Linked DNA regions of Homo sapiens: region 2 is linked to region 1. Evidence: fine-mapped expression QTL. A gene starts in region 1. The other region holds a variant in brackets. All regions are shown on one strand. Distances are between the middles of the regions.

Region 1 (8,434 bases):
AGGAAAGCACGCCAAACAGGAAGAGAGGTTCTCAATCCGGTCTGTGGATTTATTCGAGACTTGTAGCTTGGTTTTCAGACTTTAAACTGTCTTTGGTTTGAAGGTCAGGTTTCACAGGGGACCCGCCCCTGTCTGCCTAGGGATTTGTCTGCCTCCTGCTGCTATCATCAGGCTAATAGTATTGTTCAACTATGGATTCGTTCATAATTTGAGTTTGCAAGGCAAAACAGTATAGATGATGTGAGTCCATGGGCAATTATTAGGACAACTGCACCCATAAAACTTCAGGGTATTTGGATGAGGATGGCTACAGTAAAAAGTGCCATGTGGCTGCTTACAGAAGAATAGGCAATGAGATATAGAACAGTTAAGGGGAACTATAATCTTGTAACAGGGTCTACATGATTTTGAAGCAGTAGGCAGCAAACAACTATGAGGAATCAGGTCAGAGGGCAAGCTGACCTCATGAATTCAGCATGAAGCTGAATTTGCTGCGAGTTTGGTTTATTTTTTTTCTCTCCCTCCCTTCTTCCCTGATTAATTTTATGAAGTTTATAGGGATTGTTTCAATTGAAGCTTACACAGCATCCTGAACTACAGAAAGGAATAGGGGCTTGGGGCTTCCTGGGGGCTGGTGGCAACACAAGAGTTATGGGAGAGCAAGGGAAGGAAATGTGTGGTAACAGAGGTTGTCTTGTTATGCAGATAAAAAGTCTTTCAGGTAATAAAACTTCTCTCAAAGCAGCTCTCAGAAGAATAGGTGATTGTCTGGGTGTGGTGTCAGCCTCCGATCTCCTCTCCTGTGATCCAAGTTAATCTTCCCTGGTTGGTAAGATTCCTAGAGAGGGGATTCATGACAATTACATTCCTTTTGGAGGAGCCAGCTTTAGGCAGATAAGGGGAGCTCAGAGACAGCCTCTGCCTGTATCCACTGTTCCCCAAGTGCCCTTGGTTCAAATAATCAGCATACCAAAGTGGCATATTTTGGGATGGCATCTCCTGAACTCCTTCACATGTAAAGTACTTAGCATAGTCACTTGGCAGGATGTGAGCGCTCAGAGAAGGTTAGGTATTATTATGATACAAAGTTATTCATTTAACATTGAGTCTCTCCTACCTACTGGGTGGCAGGTTCTGTGCTAGAGTGAACAAAGATGAGTAAGACACTCTCCCTGGCCTTAAAGAGCTCTCAGTTTAGTGAGAGACAGGTGTGGATAAAGATAACCACAGTACAGTACTATCACAGGGGGATGAATCAAATGCTATAAGAGCTAAGAAGGAGGTAGCCTCGCCTACAGGGGAAAATCAGGAAGTGCTTCCCAGAGCAAGTGATCTTTGAGCCAAGTTATGAGTAATGAATAGAAATTTGCCAGGCACAGACAAGGAAGATGACATTCCAGGCAGAAGGTACCACCTATGTGAATGCATGAAGGCCTAAGAGAACATGATAGGTTTGGAGAACTAGGAGAGTTTGCTAAAGATTCAGCTTAGGATCCACGAAGGAACAAAATGAAAAGGATGTCAGCAGGCAGATTAGAAAGGATCTTAAAGTCATGTTATTGAGTTTGACCTTTAACAGAATGCCCCTCCGGGCCAAAGTTATTCTCTCCATTCCTCTAACACCTTGAACACACCTTTATCAAAATATTTATCAAATTAACATTTGATTATTTGTTTACCTGTCTCTTCCGTGGAACTATGGACCCCTTAAGAGCTTAAACCTCGGGTAGTGTTCGAATTCTCAATGCCTAGCATTCAGGTAGCACACAGCATGTATGGAAAGAGCAAAGGAAGGAATTTCTCCAAGGTCCCACAGCTATTCAGTAGCAGAGTTGGGCTAAAGGGATCCTCCCACCTCAGCCTCCCAAAGTGTTGGGATTACAGGCGGGAGCCACTGCACCTGGCCAGATTAATGCTTTTTATATTGTGTTACTTAGAGCCCTTGAGTCCCTCACCTGGAGTGCCACTCACTGAGCAGGTTGAGGAAGATGGGCCAGTGGCTGAGTTGGCAGGCTTCTTTGTATCCTCTTCAAATACATCAGTCCTTTTAGAAATTACAGGCTCTCTAAAACTTGTTTTGGAAAAAGAATTATGCTACTACAAAAAGTTTAAGTACCGTTATACTTTCATGATTGTTAAGTGCCCTAAACTAGGATTTTAAAAAGTCTCCCATGCACAACAGGAGTTTAATATGATAAAGTGTTTACACACAAAACACAGCAAACGACTCGTTTTTATTATTCCTTTTTTTCTTTCTTTTTTGTGAGACAGAGTCTCGCTCTGTCGCCCAGGCTGGAGTGCAGTGGTGTGATCTCGGCTCGCTGCAGCCTCTGCCTCCCGGCTCACTGCCTCAGCCTCCGGAGTAGCTGGGGTTACAGGCCCGCGCCACCATGCCCAGCTAATTTTTGTATGTTTAGTAGAGACAGGGTTTCACCATGTTGGCCAGGCTGGTCTTGAACTCCTGACCTCAGGTGAGCTGCCCACCTCGGCCTCCCAAAGTGCTGGGATCACAGGCATGAGCCACCACGCCCGGCCATTATTCCTTTTTTTCTAACCACTTTTTAATCTTGGTATTCTTTCAGAATAAGATGAAATGCAATGCTTAAAATGACAACTCTAATATATAACAGGCACTCTGAAAGTAATTGGCATCTCCCATAAAGACCGTCATTTTGGCTGGGCACACTGAATCACGTCTGTAATCCCAACACTTTGGGACGGTGAAGCGGGTGGATCACTTGACCTCAGGAGTTTGAGATCAGCCTGGGCAACATGGCGAAACCCCGCCTCTACAAAAAAATACAAAAATTAGCCAGGAGTGGTGACTTGCACCTGTAGTCCCAGCTAATTGGGGGGCTTGAGGGTAGAGGATCACTTGAGTCCAGGAGGCGGAGTTTGCAGTGAGCTAAGATCGTGCCAATGCATTCCAGCACTCCAGCCTGGGTGGCAGAGTGAGACCCTGTCTCAAAAAAAAAAAAAAAAAAAGACTAATTTTGAAAGCCATAAAAAATGACTTACAAAGTTTAAGACCAAATTAAGACTGTGCACATTTTTTTCCTCTTAAGTAACAGTAAAGACATGTTTTAATCCAAGCAAATGCAGAGAAGCAAATTATCTTTACTCTCACAATTACTACATTTCTAAGTCTCCTCCACAAGTACTATCTTTTTCTTTATATTCCCTGCCAAGCCTGACCCTGAAAGGTCAGTTTACTAGAGGTGCCAGATAAACCAAATAGGTAATTCGCCAAAGCCTCACTTCCTTCTTAGTTTATAAAGCAGGGGTTGCAAGGGAAGGTTTATTAGAATCACCTGGGAAGCTTTTTCAACCTACATGTGTGCCACAGCCTCCTCTCCCTCTTAGGAAGCACTGTTCTAGTTTGGGGCTTCAATCTGTCCCACATTAAAGGTCTTCATCTTTCTAAATCCTACCCAACTGAAGGTTAATGGAGTAGAAACAATTGAACGCAGAAGTCACTGACTTTGTCACAAACTGGCTGGACAAGTCCCTTAACCTTTCTGGTCTCAAGTTTTTCCTCCGATTTTGGGGGTTCCCTTTAAACTTTGACATTCTTCTATGTGACCGCATGTCATGTCTAAGAAGCCTTCTGAACTACTCCTAGCATGGGATGACTTGCCCTTTCTTGCTTTTCCAACAGCCTGTGCAATACAACATATCACCTATTTTATACTGTCCTATATTGCCCTCTAGTTGTTTTTTAATGAAGCTTTTTTTCTTCTCAACGATATGTAGTTTAAAATACTAGTTTAAAAGTTTATTTTCAGGGGTAGACAGTGTGCCTGCTACTTAAATCTCCTAGGACAATTCAGGCTGCGTCCTAAGGTAATCAGTATGTATTTATATTGCTTTGTTCAAAACAATGACGTCCCTTCTTTGAAGTCCTGAAATTATGTTTTCCATCAGTTCTGTCCAGTAGAAATATAATGGGAGCTACAAATATAGTTTTAAATTATCTGGCAGGCACATTTACAAAGTGAAAAGAAAGAAGTACAATTAATTCTAATAATATATTTAATCCAACATATCCAAAAGACTATCATTTCAACATGTAGTCCATGTAAAAAGTATTTACATTTTTCATTCTTTTTTTTTTAAATGTCTTTGAAATCTGGGGTGTTTTTTACACTTGCAGCACATCTCGATTCAAAATAGCCACTTTCAAGTGCTTAGTAACCACATGTAGCTAGTAACTACCTACTGAACAATGCTGTTCTGCATAAGTTGGCTGCTTTCCAAACTGATCACTTTTTTTTTTTATTCAGATAATGACTGATACTGAGTACTCAGGCTAGCCAGAGTGGTGCAAAGATGAGTCAAATTCATTCTGATAAGAGAGATTTGTAAGTCACTAGCAATTATACAGCGTGGTAGGTGCCATGATAGAGATGCATAGGAGAAACCCAGACTTGGCGGCTGAAGGGCACAGGGTGGAAGGCGGTAGAGAGACAAGGAAGGTTGCACAGAAATAACATTTGATGTAGGAACTAAGTGCACGAAGGGAAGCCGGCTGTGCGGTGACCGGAGTTGCAGGTTGCCAATCTTGCTGAGGGGGGCTCCACCGGACGCCGGCCTACGGGTCGTAGGCGTGTGTGGGGTGAAGGGGGAAGAGGACGGGAGAGGATTGGCTGGGAGGAACCCGGAGCTCCATCTGGTGGGTGGACGGAAACCGCAGGGGGGCGCTACTTGCACTTCGCGCTCAAGCGACCGGATCTTCAAACCGTGGGAGTGGTGCGGCGGCTAGAGTCCCTGGACTCCTCAACCTAGGGAGCTACTCGCGAGGTAAGGGGCGCGCCAGACTGGCTCCTAAAACGCACTCGCTCGTCCGCACTCCTCGCGCTCCGAATTCAGCCTCGCCTCACCCGGGCTTCAGAGCCCACAGAACTTCTCAGCCCCGTGTCGGCGACGAGGAGCTCATGGTAAAACAGCGCCTAGGGTTTTGCTTGTTTGTTTGCTTTTAACAGATGCCTACGACTTGTAACGGGCTGCCTGGTAAAATGAGTCTATGGAAACGGTTGCCAGGGCCGGCTAACAGCGGCTCCCGGAAGTCCTTTGATGCTTTGTTAACAGTGAAGCTACTGGACCAATGAGGTGCTTCTTCCGGTTTTGTCCGCGCTCGCCTAATTCTTCTTTATCAAGGTTGCCTTTGACCCCGGAAAAGAGATCTTCCGGGTTCCTCTCTCCCCAAGATGGCTGCTGAGGACGAGTTACAGCTGCCGCGGCTCCCCGAGCTGTTCGAAACTGGTAGACAGTTACTGGACGAAGTAGAAGTGGCGACTGAACCCGCCGGTTCCCGGATAGTCCAGGAGAAGGTGTTCAAGGGCTTGGACCTCCTTGAGAAGGCTGCCGAAATGTTATCGCAGCTCGACTTGTTCAGGTATGGGGGAAGATAGTAATAATGGCTGAGAACGAAGGTAATAATGGTTACCAAGGGTGGAGCCATTGCGCCTGAGTGGAGGGGACCTTTAGTGGTGAGAACGTTTCGTTCCTACTTACCACTGCGATCTTGTGTACATTGTTTACATTCCCCACCTCTCTTCCCAGATGGTTGATATCTTACGACTCTGCTTCCTAGCGTCTGCTGATTGCATAGGCATTGGGTGTGAGCCCTCAGCCACTTTCATTGAGTGAAACTGGCCGCTGTTCCCCGTGCCTCCTCCCTCTGGTCCACTCCCAGCCCAGCCTCCCACTCCGTCCCCCAGAAAGCAAGGGCCACAATTTGAATGCCTAGTCAGGCTTCACTGCCTCCTTTTTGCTCTTCCAGCCGAAATGAAGATTTGGAAGAGATTGCTTCCACCGACCTGAAGTACCTTTTGGTGCCAGCGTTTCAAGGAGCCCTCACCATGAAACAAGTCAACCCCAGCAAGCGTCTAGATCATTTGCAGCGGGCTCGAGAACACTTTATAAACTACTTAACTCAGTGCCATTGCTATCATGTGGCAGAGTTTGAGCTGCCCAAAACCATGAACAACTCTGCTGAAAATCACACTGCCAATTCCTCCATGGCTTATCCTAGTCTCGTTGCTATGGCATCTCAAAGACAGGCTAAAATACAGAGGTGGGTCAATAGCTATAATATGAGGCCTGCCCAATGGCGGTGCTTTTCAGGGGCATGCTTTCTTGGCGGGTGGTGGGGGGCCAGAATGGTATGTGTCACTTTCTTGGTTCTTATTGAGCATAGGCCCTAGGGAGAGCAAACTTTCCTGAGTTTTTCCAAGAAGCCTCTGCTTTTGTTGAGATGATTATACCTACTTATCAGACCCTTACTACCTTATGGTTGGCAACAGCAGCAATGTAGTTTAGCAGAGTGTCTCCCAACCTTTTCCACATCACATCATAGCAATGTTCATATGGTACAGTGGGGTAGATGTCTCTGAAAGGCAAAGCTAGGCCATTTTATGGTCCACTGATTGAGGAGCTCTGTTCAGACTACTGGAGTAGATGTGTAACATCCTGAACTGATCTTAGTCCTGGCACAGCTTCATTGTGTGACCTTGGAAAAGTTGCTTACTTTCTTAGGTTTTTTTTGTTGTTGTTGTTTGTTTTTTAAACAACATTTAATGGGTGGTCATGATGTCTAGGAACTATGCTAGGCACTGGGGATACAAACTGTATAGGTATTTGTGTGAGTATGAGTGGTCCCTGCCTTGGAGGAGCATACAATCTGGTGAGGAAAACGGGCATAGAAACAGAATATCAATATAAACTGATGTTGTGGAGGGATGCACAAGGTACTATGAGAGCAGACAGGAAGGGCACCTAACCAAAGGGAGCAGGAGAGAGGAGAAAGCTCCCTGGAAGAGGTGACTCCTGTGCTGAGTTCTTTAAGGGTAAATAGGAATATCCAGGGGAAGAGGAGAGGAGGGCATTAGCCGGCAGAGTATGTAAAGCCTTAGTAAAGCCACAGAGGCATTAAAGAAACAGTGGTGGGTGGAGATGTGTAGACCAAAAACAGCAGCTATGAGCAATTAGGTGATGGTAGAACACAAAGAGGGTGGTGGTAAGGGGGAAGGAATGATACTGAAGAATGTTGTAGGGTCCACATCAAGGAGAGCCTGGGATGTGAGGAACGTGAAGAGAAACTTGTTGCTGAGAACTTGGTAAGGTGTTTGAATCCCAGCTCGACGACTGTGATTAATCACTGTGATTTGTGGTAAGTTATTTAATCTTTCAGTACCTTAATTTCCCCAGCTGCAAAATTCAGATAATAATAGGTTCTTCCTCATAAAGTAGTTTATGAGGATTAAAAGAGAAATATATATAAAGCAGTTAGCCCAATGTTTGACACAGTAAACACTCAAAGTCAACTATTATTATTTGTGGCTAAGAGTATGGGTCATAGAGTCAGAGACCTGGGTTTGAGATCCAGCTTTACTTATAATCTGTTGGACTTTGGGGAAGTTATTTAACCTAACTGAGCCTCAGCTTTCCTCATATGTGAAATCTAAGTAATAATGGTACAGATGGTCCCCGATTTGCGATGGCTTGTCTTAGAATTTTTTAACTTTATATTGGTGCAGAAGCAATACACAGTCAGGGGAACATCAATAAATTACATGAGTTATTCAACACTTTATTATAAAATAGGCCTTGTGTTAGATGATTTTGCCCAACTGTAGGCTAATATAAGTGTTCTGAGCATGTTGAAGGTAAACTAGGCTAAGCTATGATGTTCAATAAGGTGTATTAAATGCGTTTTCAACTTACCATATTTTCCATTTATGATGGATTTATTGAGATGCAGCCCTATTGTAAGTTGAGATGCATGTGTACCTATCTCAGGGTTAATAAGCACAAATGGGAAAAATCACATAAAACAGCACAATATCTGGCATGTGGTGAGTATTCTGTAAATGTCAGCTGCTATTAGGTAGGACACGCCAAAGAGCTTACTCTGGTTGGTGACTGAGATCCACTGAAGAGTTCTGTTTCTTTTTTCTTTATTATTATTATTATTATTATTATTATTATACAGAGTTTCACCCTTGTCACCCAGGCTGGAGTGCAATGGTGTGATCTTGGCTCGCTGCAACCTCCACCTCCTGGGTTCAAGCAATTCTGCCTCAGCCTCTCAAGTAGCTGGGATTACAGGCACCTGCCACCACGCCCGGCTAGTTTTTGTATTTTTAGTAGAGATGGGGTTTTGCCGTGCTGGCCAGGCTGGTCTCGAACTCCTGATCTCAGGTGATCTACCCACCTCGGGCTCCCAAAGTGCTGGGATTACAGGTGTGAGCCGCTGTGCCCTGGCTGTTTCTTTTCAAATAGTAGCATGATCACATTTGCATTTTAGCTAGTACACTGTACCAGCAGTTAGGAAACAGTGAGGGAAAAGATTAGACCCAGTTAAGTCACAAAGGTGACTAGGGTTTACTATTGCAATGGTAGAGGGATGGGGGAGTACATTTAGGAGGGTTGA
Region 2 (8,434 bases), 64 kb before region 1:
GAAAATTTTAATCTTTACTTTCTGTAATTCAGTGAGATTAATTTTGGAAATTCTTTCTACATTCCAAATGCTCTAAGATAAAATATATATGTTTTTGAAAGTTTTTAAACATGTAGTTTGTTCAAAAATAAAAACCATTTAAAAAATACCTGCTTCTCTGTTTTTGTGTAGCTAACTTCATATAGAGTTTATATCCCAGGATCTACTTAAGCAAAGGAATCCTGGAGGGTTAGGGAGCATAGGCCTGTTGCGGGTGGCGGGGTGGTGGTTGCTGACTGGGGACAGGGGCAAAGACTGCTGAAGGGCTCTAGAAATGGGAAAGGTGCTCTACTTCAGTGGGCTGCATAGGGTCAGGGAAGGGGGTGACAAGCTAAAAGAAGAGGCCTGGCTAGGGTAGGGGACCTTCATGGACAAAGAGGCCCAGCTGGGTAGCGGGGGCACAGGCTAGGAAAGAAGTCCTGGCTGAGGGAGGATGCCTGCAAAGGGTCCAGGCTGGAGGCTGGGGCATGGACTGGTGAAGGGTTCCTGGTAGGAGAAGGTGGCCCAGCTGGGGCAGGCTGGAGAAGGAGAGGAAGGGGGCCTGGCTTGGGAAGGGAAGCTGTTTGGGAACTGGGCTACAGTCTGGGGAAGGGGTCCTGGCAGGGGTGGAGTTGGGTGGAGAGAAGGGCAGGAAAGGGGGCTGGGTCAAGAAAGAGTCACTGTCTATACAAGGAGGAATAGGCTGACCAGGGGGCAACTCAAAGGGACAAGATGCCTCGTAGCAACGGGTCTTTGGCTATTGAATGGGGAAATGGCTCTGGCAAACTGCCTGGCCAGGGGAATTGAAGGGAATTGGGAAATTGGGCCTGGATAGGGAAGGGAGCCTCACTGGGGAGGGCACACAGGCTGAAGAAGTGCCATATGGTGTGGAGGGGTCATTGAAGAAGGAAGCCTGGCTGGGATGGGGGGAGGGGGGACCTGGCTGCAAGGGTGGGGGAATGCTGGCTGGGAAAGGTGGCCCGGCTGATGATGCAGGCTTAGGTGACCAAAGGGGCCAAGCATGGGAGTGGCCTTGGCAGGGCAAGGAGGAAGATCTTGGGGAAGAGGTAACAGGCTAGGGAGGCACTGGCAGAGGAAGGGGACAAGGCTGGGCAAGGGAACCTGGCTGTGGACTGGGACACGGGGTGGGGAAGGAAGCCTGGCTGGGAGGGACATAATAGGGTGAGCGGGGGTGGGGGGAGCAGGTTAGGGAAGAACTGGCTGGTCAAGGGAAGGAGGCCCAGTTGAGTTAGGAGCCAAAGGATGAGAAAGGTGTTCCTAGCTGTTAATGAGAGGAAAGGCTGGGGAAGAACGCCTGGCCGGCGGAGGGGACATGGGCTGTCCAGTGGAGTCCAGGCTGGAGAAGGCACTGGACCAGGGAAGGAGATCTAGCAGGAAAGTAAGCATAAGCTGGGGAGGAGGACATAGACTCGGGGAGAAGGACATAGATTGGCGGAGAGGGCGAGACTGAGGAAGGGTCCCAGACATGGGGATGTGCCTGTCTTGTAAAGGGACCACAGTCTTGAGAGGCTGGCACAATCTATGGAAGACAGATGGGTGTGGGGTAGGGAGGATTGTGGGGTAAAAAGACCCCTTAGGGAAAGGTTGCCTAACTGGAGAGCGACTCTGACAGCGGAAGGGGCTGGGGAGGGAGGCACAGACTAGGAAAGGGAACCTGGTGGTGGGAAAGGTTTGAATACCGAGAAGGACATAGGCTAGAGATGGGATCATAGGCAGGTTAGTGGGCCCGGCTGGGAGAGGGGGCCTACCAGGTGGAGAGAGCTTGCTAGGAAAGAAATCATGCCTGGGAATGAGGGCCTCTCCCCCTGACAGGAACTTGGCTGAGGAAGGGCACGTGGTTGAGAAAACGGGCTTAGTTGTAGAGGGGCACACAGGATAGGAATGGGGTCTGGCTGGGGTAGGGGCAATAGGCTGGACAAGGGGCCTAGGCAGGCGAAGGCTGTGGAAGGAGGCCTGCCTGGAAAAAGGAGCACAGACTGGGGCAGAGGGCACGTTGGGTGAGGAGAGCTTGGCTGCAGGAGGGGCATGGCTAGGAACCCTTTCCTAGCCGGGGAAGCAGACTTGGCTTAGCACGGGGCACATGTGGGTGAAGGGATCCTGGTGGGAAAGATTGCATGGCTGGGGAGGCCACTGGGTAGGTGAGGGAGAGCTGAGAGAAGATGCCTGACTGCGGAAGGAGGTGCTGGCTGGGAAAGGCCAGCAAAGGGGCAACTCCTTGGAAAAGTGGTCCCGTTGAAAAGGGGAAAGGCTGGGGATGGGTGCCCGGCTGTGGGAAGGGGACATAGAGTTGAAAAAAGGCCTGGGCTGGGGAAGGGCAGACTGGCTAAGGAGGTTGGGGAATAGGCTCTGGCTGGGGTTGAGTCTGTCCTGGGAGAGAAAGGAAGGAGGGGCATCTGGTTGGGGGTACAGGATGAGGAGGAAGCCCCACCGAGACACAGACTGGGAACCCAGCAGTAAGTGGTTAGAGGGCAGAGAGGTGCGCACAGGCTGGTCAGATGGCTAAGAAAGGGGCCAATCTAAAGAGGACACAGCTTGAGGAAGAGGGTCTGGCTGGGGAAAGGGGCCCTGGGCAAGGGGACATAGGCTAAGCAAGGAAAATAAAGTTGGGTCGTGGAGCCTGCCTGGAGATAGGGATATTGGGCAAAGGGGACCTGGAAGGAGAAGGGGCTCTGGCTGGGGTAGAATTCCTTCATGGTCCAGGACAGGCTAGAGACAAGAGTTCAGGCTCGGGAAGTCTGCCTGGTTGCCAAAGAAGGCCTACCTGTCCAGGGGGCACAGGCTGGGGAGGGGCAACAAGCTGGGGCAGAGAGCCTGGGTAGGGTTGCTGCAGAAGGCAGTACTGGCTGGGAAATGGGGCCTGACTGGGGAGGCCGTATCAGTAGGTATAGGGGAAGCATGTCTAGCAGGGCAAGGTGACGTGACTGGAGAAGTGGCCTTGGCTGGGGAAGGAAGCCTAGCTGGGAGGAAAGGTATATAAATGGATGAAGGGGGCCTGGCTAAGTGAGGTGGCCTGACTGAGAAAGCGGGCATGACTGGGTTCCAGGGAACAGGCAGAATCAGGGCTCCTGATGAGAGAAGGGCAGGCAGCACAGGGTGGGGATCGGGTGGGGAAGGGGGACTCCCTGAGAAAGGAGGCCTAGGTCTAGAAAGGAAATAGACTGAGGAGCAAGGTTAAGGAAGCGCAGCTGCGCAAGGAAGGGAGAATAGGCTGGTGACAAGGACACTCATTGCTGAAGGGAGCCTAGTTGGCATAGGGTATAAGTTGGTATAGGATGAAAAAGAGATTCCTGGCTTTTGAAGAGGGGAGGCCACCTGCCTGGGGGCAGAGGAACTTGCTAGGCAAGGGGTTCACAGGGTATGGGGGGATGGCTGGGGAATGGGCACAGCTGTGGAAGGGTGCACTGGCTGGGAAAGGGGGCATAGGCTGGGCAGGGGTCTTAAGTGGAGAAGAGGCATAGGTTGCTTTAGAGGGCACTGCCTGGATAATGTGAGCCTTGCTGGGGGTGGGGCTGGTACAGCCCAAAAAATTCTGTGACAGATGGCACCAAAGATGGTAAAGTCCCATTTTACAGGCTTGTCCCTGAATACAAGAGAAATAGCTATTCCTATTTTGGGAACCTTTAAGATCTCACTCGGCCCGTCCCCAGCTGCCCCCATTGGGTCTGCCTTCAGCAGGAAGGAGAGGGAAGTGTTAACCCAGGCCAGATCCTAACCATGCCCAGAACACAAAGAGGGGGGTCTCCACTGTGGGATCTGGCAGGACACAAGGGATTTGCAGTTTGTTCCATTCTATAACAATGACTACAGTCACTGAGGACAGGCTATTCTGGGCAAGTTCATGAAAGCCATGGGGTACTGTTCTCAAAAGGATCTAATTCCAGAAGCAACTTTCATTCATTTCCTTACTGTTTTTTATTTATTCATTATCATTCCCTCTCCCCTCTTGCCATAGCAATAAAAAATAAGATGCTTCTTGTATGCAAATTTAGGCTCTGGAGTCAGACATCTATCTGGGTTTAAAGCCGAAATTGCCCACCTACTTCCTAGCTTTGCGACCTTGGATAAGTCACCTAAACTTTCTGGGCCTCAGTTTCCTCATGGATAACATAGGGAGATTAATACTTGTCTTAGAGATATTTCTTCAGGATGTTAAGAACATTAAATGAAAATGCCTCCGGGCGTGATGGCTCACACCTGTAATCCCAGCACTTTGGGGGCCAAGGC[G/A]TGTGGATTATTTAAGGCCAGGAGTTCGAGACCAGCCTGAACAAAAAGATGAAACCCCATCTCTACTAAAAATACAAAAATTAGCTGGGCATGGTGGCACACGCCTGTGGACCCAGCTACTTGGGAGGCTGAGGCAGGAGAATCGCTTGAAACCGCAAGGCAGAGGTTGCAGTGAGCCGAGATCGCGTCATTGCGCTCCAGCCTGGGCAACAAGAGCGAAACTCCATCTCAAAAAAAAAAAAAAGGAAAAGAAAATACATATCAAGTGTCCAGTAAATAAGTGCCCAACAAATGTTAGCTACTATTAATATTATCTAGGAGCCCATGAACATGACATTATTGGCTCTGGCAGCAGCCACTTCTTGATTTTGTCTACAGTGACTTTTGGGGCCACTTGGCCTCTTCCCACAGGTCCTGCAGGGGAAGCAGAGACTCTCCCAGGGCTGTCTGCCCCAGCTGTTGCTATCAGAGCTTCTACTGGAGCTCACCAAAAGTGCCCCTCTGGGGACAGGGTGACCTGCATGGAGGAACTCCTCAGGCTCTTCTTTTCAGGACTTTTCTACACAAACACATAATAGACTCACATGTTTTGAAAAACAATATTGGTGTCATTCTATTGAAATTGGCTTTTAAACTTAACAATACATTATAAACACTTTCTTGTGTCCTTAACAGTCTTCAATATGATGATTTTAAAGCCTGCCTTCTAGCCAATGAATGTGCCATAATTTATTTATTCAATTTTATTGTTGGACGTTTAGATTGCTTTCAATTTCTCACCACTATAAATATGCCACTGTAATATCCTTGCAGCTGAATCTTTGTCTATATTTCTGATTATTTCCTTTTGATAAGATTTGTAGACGTGATCTAGGTCAAAAAGGAGGGGCTCTTAATGCGTACTGGGAAAGACTGCATGAATTTACACTCCCAGGCTATGAGGCTGTTATATTCCCACATAATTGCCAACACGGAAAATTATCATTGTTGCTAATTTGTCAGATGAAAAATGTTGTATTAGTGGATGTTTCATTGATTACTAGTGAGATTGAATATTCCTCTATGTGTTTATTTCATTCATGCAGGAATAAGTATTTCTCTTTTTTTGAATTTCAACTTTATTTTAGATTCAGGAGACACATGTGTAGATTTGTTATGTGGGCATATTGCATGACACTTAGGTTTGGAGTACAAATGATCCCATCACCTAGGCAATGAGTATAGTAGTCAACAGGTAGTTTTTCAGCCCTCGCCCCTTCCGCCTCCACCTCCCCCATAGTAGTCCCAGGTGTCTATTGTATCCATCTTTAGGTCCTTGTTTACCCAAAGTTTAGCACCCACTTATAAGTGAGAACATACGGTATTTTGTTTTCCAGGAACAAATATTTCTTATTTTGTTGCCTATTCCTGAACTTCACTTAATTTTCTCTGAATAAGTTTGTCTTTTTCTTTTTTTTGTTTGTTTGTTTGTTTTTGTTTTTGTTTTTTGAGACAGAGGCTCACTCTGTCGCCCAGGCTGGAGTGCAATGGCACAATCTCGGCTCACTGCAACCTCTGCCTCCTGGGTTCAAGCGTTTCTCCTGTCTCAGCCTCTCAAGTAGCTGGGATTACAGGCACACGCCACCACACCTGGCTAATTTTTTGTATTTTAGTAGAGACAGGGTTTCACCGTGTTGCCCAGGCTGATCTTGAACTCCTGAGCTCAGGCGATCCACCCATCTCAGACTCCCAAAGTGCTAAGATTACAGGCGTGAGCCACAGCACCCGGCCTTCTTCTGCATTTTTAATAGGACCTTCCATATTAATAAATCTGATCACTTGTCATTTGAATATTTTAAAAAATAGTTGGCCAGGCGTGGTGGTTCATGCCTGTAATCCCAGCACTTTGGGAGGCCAAGGCAGGCAGATCATGAGGTCAGGAGATCGAAACCATCCTGGCTACTAAAAATACAAAAATTAGCTGGGCGTGATGGCGCATGCCTCTAATCCCAGCTACTCAGAAGGCTGAGGCAGGAGAACCACTTGAACCAGGGAGACAGAGCTTGCAGTGAGCCAAGATTGTGCCACTGCACTCCACCCTGGGCAACAGAGTCAGACTCTGTCTCAAAAAAAAAAAATAGTTTTTCCTGTGCATTAATTAGCCTTTCAGTTTTGTTTCTTTCTTTTTGCATATGTGTAAGTTTAAAATCATAATGTAAGTTTAAAATCTATTAATCTTTTTCATTATGGTTTCTGTCTTGGTGTCAGTCTTAGAAAAGTCTTCCTTATCCTGAAAATGGATCGATACTTGTGCATAATTTATTTCGATTTTTTAATGCTTTCTCTTTATATTTATATTTAATATATCCACCTGGAAATTACATGGGTGTAAGATAAGGACATAAAGTGATTTTCCTCAATTATGATAGTTAACCAATTAGCTCAACACTATTTATTGAATAATCCACCATTTCACCACTGATTTGAATTGCCACCTTCCATATATATTACATTCTTATACTATAAAAAGGTGAATCTCTTTTAATCAGTGATACAGAAAACCTATATTTTTTTACCTCAGTTTGAAACTGTCAGCTATCCATTCATCCACTCTTTTCATATTTACCGATGATAACAGTGATAAACCATAGCTTAAGAGAGAGAAAAGATGTAGTCCCAGTGCTCACCGTCTAGAGGTGGCAGACAGGAAAACAGAAATAGACAGAAAGCAACATGACCAATGCTGTGATGAGAGGAAGCACAGAGGAAGAAAGGACACTGAATCCGACTTGCTGTGTCAGGAGGCTTAGCAGGAGCTCCCAGAGAACACAACCAGAGCAGAGACAAGAAGGAGTGAAAGAACGGGTGTCTCCTGTTCAGCCTAGCTGAAGGGTAGTTGTGAGAGAGTTGTGGAAAAGAAGCTGAAGAGGGAGGCAGGAGAAGTAACCCAGCTTAAGTAAACATCTGTTTTACTCATAATATTACAAATTAAATGAGATACCATGTTTCATCAGTCAGATTAGCAAAGAAGTAAAGTTTGTTCGTATGCTGTGTTGATGAGGGAATGCAGAAACAGGCACTCTCAAACATTGCTGATGGATGGTGTATAAATGGGTACAATCTCTTTGGAGGGCTATTTGGCAATAGCTATCAAATTTAAAGTGCATAAACCACTATCATTTGTATTTTTAGCAGTTTCCCTTGCACATGATTAGAATATATATTTAAAAGGATATAACTGGTCACTTTTGAGGAGGGGAACCAGGTTCCTAGGGGAAAGGATGGGAGGGGGCTTCTCACTGTGTAATCTCTTGAACTTCTGGTATTTTGAACTATATGAATTAAAAATTTAAACCTAACCTACTTAATAAAATGCACATAGCTTTTGACCTCGCAATATATTGAGGGTATACATATTGTGGCAGGCCAGATCTCACTAACACAGACCTCCATAACAAATGTTTCAGTACTGACTGACGTGGTTAAGTATTAAAAGCCAGTGCCCTTATATAAAGGCTGGGATGTAACAAAAGCTCACCAAGAGTTTTGCCTAGGCCTTTCCTGGGAGTTAAACCATGAAAAAATAATGAAGGAATTTTTTTTTTTTTTTTTTAGATGGAGACTTGCTCTGTCACCCAGGCTGGAATGCAGTGGCACGATCTTGGCTCACTGCTACCTCTGCCTCCCAAGTTCAAGTGATTCTCCTTTCTCAGCCTCCCGAGTAGCTGGGACTACAGGCGCCCGCCACCACACCCTGCTAATTTTTGTATTTTTAGTAGACACGAAGTTTCACCATATTGGTTAGGCTGGTCTCGAACTCCTGACCTCATGTGATCCACCCACCTTGGCCTCCCAAAGTGCTGGGATTACAGGCGGCATGAGCCACTGCGCCCGGCCATAACGAAGGAATCCTTAACAGGAAGCTATTTAGGATTAAAAGAGTTTTATCAGGGGCCTGAAGAAACTCCCCAGGCCTCCACAAACAAGTTTATTGGAGGTCTGAGGGAACTCCCCAAACCTCCATGATTTAGCAGGAGACAAGATAAGGGTAATCACCCCAGCACCTAGACCCATTTAGATTAAGTAAATTTACTGAGGCTCCAGAGGAAGGTCTTCAGGACTCAGACCTTAGTTATAGATTAAAAGCAGTTAATTACCAGGCGCAATGGCTCATGCCTGTAATCCCAGCACT

Evidence for each region. PIP is the estimated chance that this variant, and not a neighbour inherited with it, causes the effect.
Region 2: its variant is fine-mapped to the expression of IGBP1 in blood mononuclear cells (TOPMed, PIP 0.98).

What each region holds. Positions count from the first base shown.
Region 1 is chrX:70,128,741-70,137,174 of GRCh38, forward strand. It overlaps IGBP1 (immunoglobulin binding protein 1), which reads left to right and starts at 4,707. Exons shown (of 7, transcript NM_001551.3): 1 at 4,707-4,800; 2 at 4,983-5,395; 3 at 5,783-6,076. The coding sequence starts at 5,208. It also overlaps the pseudogene MTND4P31. RefSeq lists an enhancer at 5,126-5,585.
Region 2 is chrX:70,065,058-70,073,491 of GRCh38, forward strand. No RefSeq gene overlaps it. Among named protein-coding and RNA genes, the nearest start is that of OTUD6A, 6.8 kb to the left of the region's middle. The variant G/A (reference allele first, on the strand shown) is at 4,264.